Linked DNA regions of Homo sapiens: region 2 is linked to region 1. A link means that fine-mapping ties the variant in region 1 to the expression of a gene that starts in the linked region. Tissue or cell type: nucleus accumbens. Region 1 holds a variant in brackets; the other region holds the start of a gene. All regions are shown on one strand. Distances are from middle to middle.

The links.
Region 2: LINC00658 starts here. The variant in region 1 is fine-mapped to the expression of LINC00658 in nucleus accumbens (GTEx, PIP above 0.99). The same link has a PIP of 0.9 or more in caudate, cerebellar hemisphere, cerebellum, cerebral cortex and putamen.

The regions. Positions count from the first base shown.
Region 1 is chr20:5,503,256-5,506,169 of GRCh38, reverse strand. LINC00654 (long intergenic non-protein coding RNA 654) reads left to right here and starts at 1,574. Exons shown (of 2, transcript NR_015406.2): 1 at 1,574-1,872. RefSeq lists an enhancer at 1,719-1,828. The variant C/T (reference allele first, on the strand shown) is at 1,479.
Region 2 is chr20:5,444,292-5,447,205 of GRCh38, reverse strand. LINC00658 (long intergenic non-protein coding RNA 658) reads left to right here and starts at 1,458. Exons shown (of 5, transcript NR_038240.1): 1 at 1,458-1,702.

The sequences.
Region 1 (2,914 bases):
AGTCATTAGGGAAAGGCAAATCAAACGCACAATGAGATGCCACCTTCTACCCCTTAGGATGGCTATGATAAAATCTACAGACAAGAACAAGTGTTAGCAAGGATGGAGGAAAAAACCCTCATCACTGCTGGTGGGAATGTGAAATGGTGCAGCCACTTTAGAAAACAGATTGGCGGCCAGGTGCTGTGTCTCATGCCTGTAATCCCAGCAATTGGGAGGCCAAGATGGGTGGATTGCCTGAGGTCAGGAGTTCGAGAGCAGCCTGGGCAACATGATGAAACCCTGTCTCTACAAACAAACAAACAAACAAACAAAGAAACAAACAAAAAAACATTATGCAGGCATGGTGGCATGTTCCTGTAGTCTCAGCTACTTAAGGAGCTGAGACAGGAGGGTCACTTGAGCCCAGGAGGTTGATGCTGCAGTGAGTGGTGTTTGTGCCATTGCACTCCAGCCTGGGTGACAGAGTGAGACCACATCTCTGAAAAAAAAAAAAAAGAAAAAAAAAAAAAAAGAAGAGGGGAAACAGGTTGGCAATTCCTCTCAAAAACTACACAGTTATACTTTGACCCAGAAATTATACTCCTACTTATATAAGCAGAAATGAAAACATAAATCTACACAAACTTCTACACAAATGCTCATAGCAGCTTTATTCATAATAAACAGAAGTGGAAACAGTTCAAAAGTCCATCAGCTGATGACTGGATAAATATCATATATGCATACAAGGGAATATTTTTCAGTAAAAAACTAAGTTCTGGGCCAGGTGAGGCATCTCATGCCTGTAATGCTGATGCTTGCACCCGTGCAAGCATAGGTATTGCACAGGCTGAAGAAGGAGGATGGTTTCACCCCAAGAGTTCAAGACCAGCCTGGACAACATAGCAAGACCCCTTTCTCTACATATATATAGAAAATGTTCTCAAATTAGATGGTGCCGATGATTGCACAATTCTGTGACTATACTAAGAACCAGTGTATATTCTATTTTATTTCATTTTATTTTAGAGACAGGGTCTCACTCTGTCACCCAGGCTGGAGTGAAGTGGTGCGATTTCAGGTCACAGCAACTTCTATCTCCCAGGTTCAAGCGATTCTCCTGCCTCAGCCTCCCGAGTACCTGGGATTACAAGCACACACAACTATGCCTGGATATTTTTTGTATCTTTAGTAGAGACAGGGTTTTGCCATGTTGGCAAGGCTGGTCTTGAACTCATGACCTCAGGTGACCCGCCACCCCCATCCCCGCTGCCCCCTCGGCCTCCCAAAGTGCTGGGATTACAGGCGTGAGCCACCGCGCCGGGCCCATTGTACATTTTAAATGGGCGAATTACATCGTGTGTGAATTATAACTTAATAAAGCTGCTGGGAAAAAAAAGAAGATAAAAAAGTGAGGTGGATTAAAGGGCCCATAGAGGAAGCCACCTGACCCCCGGCCTGGCCTCCTTCTCGGCTCTTCCTCTCCGGGGGCCCAA[C/T]AGGGCTGTGCGTTTGACAGGCAGTTGGGAGACCCTGGTGGCCGGTTTTGGTCGGTCACGTGGGCACGCGGCTGAGCCAATCAGAATCTCCCGGCAGTTGGTTCCCGGAGGCAGAATCTGTTAAACTGACAAAGCCCACGTCTCCGGGTCCCTGTCTCGGGGAGTCGGGACTATTGGGTCACCCCGGGTAGTCGAGACTCTAGACTGAGCTGTCTCGGTCACTCAGGAGGCAGTTGGCAGAGTATTCGTGGTCAGGGAGGTGACCCGTGGTCAGCAGGGTCAGGCCACCCAGGGACAAAGGGTGCTCCTGCACCGGGCCTTGGAGAAGGACAGAGCGGTGGGGACTTGGGGTCAGCGGGGGAGCCTCCGCGGATGGGGAGTCACCACCTGCCGGGTAAGAGGGGACTCATCACAGGGGCCGGAGCAAGACAAGCCCTCCCTCCCGGCTCAGGCCGGGTCCCAGGCTGGACCCCTCCCTGTCTCACAGGGCCGGCCTCCTTCGGAGCTGGCTGGGATGGAAAGGGGAAGTAGGAGGAGCTCAGGACACAGGGATTGGGGCCGATCCTGGGGTCTGAGCTGTGGGGTGAGGAGGGGATCGCCTGTCCCCTGGGGAGTGACGATGTCACCCAGCCGTGGCCGTTGCGGAGGTCATGATCTGAACCTTGACAGGTAACCCCAGGGCTGCCTTCCTGTTCTTCTCCTGGGCTGTCAGGGGACACCCTGCTCTGTTTTGTTTTTAAGTGACCAGAGACAGACACGTAACATAGAAAACGCTATCACTTTGATCATTTGTTTCGAATGGAAGAAAAACCGACACAAGTGGGTTTCTGGTGGGAAGCGCTTCCCTCCAACTCCAGGAACTCCATCAAGGAGTTAAGAAAGCACAGAGTCCTGTCAGCAGCCAGAGACATGCTGGGCAGTGGTGACCTCGGAGCCACCCCGCGACATGGAGATCTCGAGCTCCGCCCTCCGTGCAGGGAGATTCCTTTTGGAAAAAATCTCTGGCAGAGTGGGAGGGTGTAGGGGCCAGCCACATACATGCTTGCTGCTAGGACCCCTTAGCCATGGGCAGGGTGGGCACAGTGACCAGGGCCAGGAAACTTACAGGCCCACCAAAGAGTGTCAATTTCAGTCAGAAGAAAAAAAAATTGAACTATGTGATTTTTTTTTTTTTTAAGACGCAGTCTTGCTCTGTCGCCCAGGCTGGAGTGCAGAGGCGTGATCTCGGCTCACTGCAAGCTCCTCCTCCCGGGTTCACGCCATTCTCCTGCCTCAGCCTCCCGGGTAGCTGGGACTACAGGAGCCCGCCACTGCGCCCGGCTAATTTTTTCTGTATTTTTAGTAGAGATGAGGTTTCACCGTGGTCTCGATCTCCTGACCTCGTGATCCACCCGCCTCGGCCTCCCAAAGTGCTGGGATTACAGGTGTGAGCCACC
Region 2 (2,914 bases), 59 kb after region 1:
CTCGTTTATATTAACAATAGCAATAAAAATAACAATACAGACTGGGCGTGGTGGCTTACACCTGTAATCCCAGCACTTTGGGAGGCCAAAGCGTGCAGATGACGAGGTCAGGAGTTTGAGACCAGCCTGGAGAGTATGGTGAAACTCAGTCTCTACTAAAAATACAAAAATTAGCCGGACATGGTGGCGTGCGCCTGTAGTCCCAGCTACTCGGGATGCTGAGGCAGAAGAATCGCTTGAACTCGGGAGACGGAGGTTGCAGTGAGCTGAGATCTCACCACTGCACTCCAGCCTGGGTGATAGAGTGAGAATCTGTCTCAAAAACAAACAAAAACAAACAAACAAAAAACAATACAATGGCAAGGGAAGAAATAAAAGGAGGGTGTCTAATGTGGTAAGGAGGGAAGGAAAAATGAAGAAAGAAGAAAAACCTATTGAAAATAGCCAAGAAAACAGCTGCCCTTCTAAGATACTGACTTGAGGGCTTTCAAAATAATGGAAATTATGCTTCACAAAAAATAATCCCAATGGTCATGGTCATTAGAATTTAGAACAATATTTATATGGCTCCCTGTGGTGAATCAACAATTATTTTCTATGGCTTCAATTTTCAGAGTTTAAATAATGAACATAGCAATACCACCAAAGAAACATTCATTAAATATCAATATAAAATAAAGTGGAAGAAAAAGAGAAAAACAGCAAGCTGCTGATTGCAGTGTTTGCAACCGAGACTCTGTTCTGCAAACCCTGGGGGATCAGCGTGGATTGAGCTATTACTAGAGGTTGGGGTTAAACACGGTAGGCTATAGACTTTCTGGGGGAGAAACCAGTCAATTTCTATTCTGAAAACCTGGCACTGCCTAAGAAAATCCAAACCCTTCAAACAGAAGCTTCGCAAGAGTGTAGTTAATGGCATAAAAGAGTGCTCAGAAACTCACCCACAGAGACTTTCTGATAGCTGATGCCAGGAACAGCAAAAAGCAGAATGTCCAGTTAGGGATAGTTAACCAAGCCCCTCTCAATTCTTCTTCTTGAGGCTATCCTCTCCTCACTGGTCCCCATTTTATAATCATGCTCAAGGAGCCTAGGCTTCTCTTCTTCTCTTACAGCATGTTTAATATCACTACTTTATCCATTCTGTACTGTTGCAGGCTGAAGGTGACATTACACTTAGAGGGATCCACAGATTCAAGAGGCTGCTTGGGGAGGGCAGCACAGTGAAGTACAAGGACTTTGACATCAGAGAGGCCTGGATTCAAGTCCCAATTTCTGTGTGTGGTAACCAGTCTGCAAGACAGCCTGTGATGGTTCCTGCCTCCTCGTATTCATGTCCTTCTTAGTTCCCTTGCGCATTGAATCAGGGCTGGCTCTGGGTGACCAATAGAATGTGGAGGAAGTGATGGGGTGTGAATTCCGAGGCTAGGTCACAAAAGGCATTGTATCTTCCACCTCTTAGATCTCTCTCTCTGCGGAAGCCAGCCACCGCTCTCCAAGGACTCTCGAGCAGCTCCATCTACAGATTCACATGGAGAAGAATTAAGGGTTCCTGCCAATCACCAGCACCACTTTGCCAGCCTTGTAAGTGGGCCACCTTGGAATTGGAGCCTCCAGTTCCTACTGACATCTGACTGCAACATCATGAGAGACCCTGAGTTTGAACCACCCAGCTGAGCTGCTTCTGAGCTAACCCACTGAAACCGTGAGAAATAATTATTGTTTCAAATCCTAAATTTGGGAGTGATATGTTATATAGCCATATTAACAAGAACTTAACCTAAGTATTGGGGGCATTTAGGGCTGATATTCATTTGGGAGGCACCTGTACAGCTGTATCAATTGTTCAATTATTTAAATATTTCTAAGTTGCTTGGTAAAAAGTCCTGTGCTTGAATTAACCTGATCTTGAATTGCAAGCTCCCTGAGGTGCCTTGCAAAGACAAATCAAATCCTCCTCAGAGGAAGGTAACATTATCCTTGCCCTCAAATTATTTCAACAAGTATTTTACAAATACCATGTTCAGCACACAACCAAAGATAAACTGACATATGGTTAAAAACAGAATGTTTTTAGACACCCAGAAGACATCCTTCACTGAGGGCTTATGTGATAGAAAAATTAAGCATATGATGACAATGGATTCAGTGTATGGCCCGGAGAAAGAAACCAAAAGTTGGGAAAGGTGTAAATGGCCCTAATGGGAAAGGAAAGAGGCTTCCATTGCTTCCCAAGACTGGGACCCATCTCTAAGAATCACAGAGAACAAATCTGTCTCCTTGCTGTTCTCCAGAGGGTAGTTGGACCTCAGATGGGTTAACCAGAGAACCAGGACCCCCAGAGCGCAAACTCCCATTTTTCTGAACATTCCCATGTCCAAGTTTGTCTGGAGAACATCCAAGTTGCCTCTTCAAGGTAGCCGGCGCCATGGACCTTTAAAAGGGACCAAAGTGTTCAGAGGACCAGGAATCCTTACTTGAATGTTCTAGACTGCAAGACACCTAGAGATTCGTAGAAAACATGACTGAGGGAAAGTGCTCCTCTAACCTGAAGGATGGAGACTTAGACCAGCTAGTATCAGATTGAGGGGAAAAAATGAGGTTTTGTTTTTTTTTTCACCAAGTATGTAAAAAAATTAAAACCCACTGTAGAATATTAGCAAGATCTTCAACAAGTCTCTCATTATACAGATGAGGAAATTAAGAACCAGGAGGTTAGAAATTCAGTCCCAGCATGCTGACTCACAGAACATATGTGGACTTTTCTTATACTCCACTGCTCTGATGAATATTGTTAAACACTATTTCTTCCTTACTCTTAGGATATCAGGGCCTTGAATGTCACAGACTACCTGGCACTTGTTTCCCAACAAGCTAATATTGACCCACACAAACTGAAAGCCTCAATTTGACATTA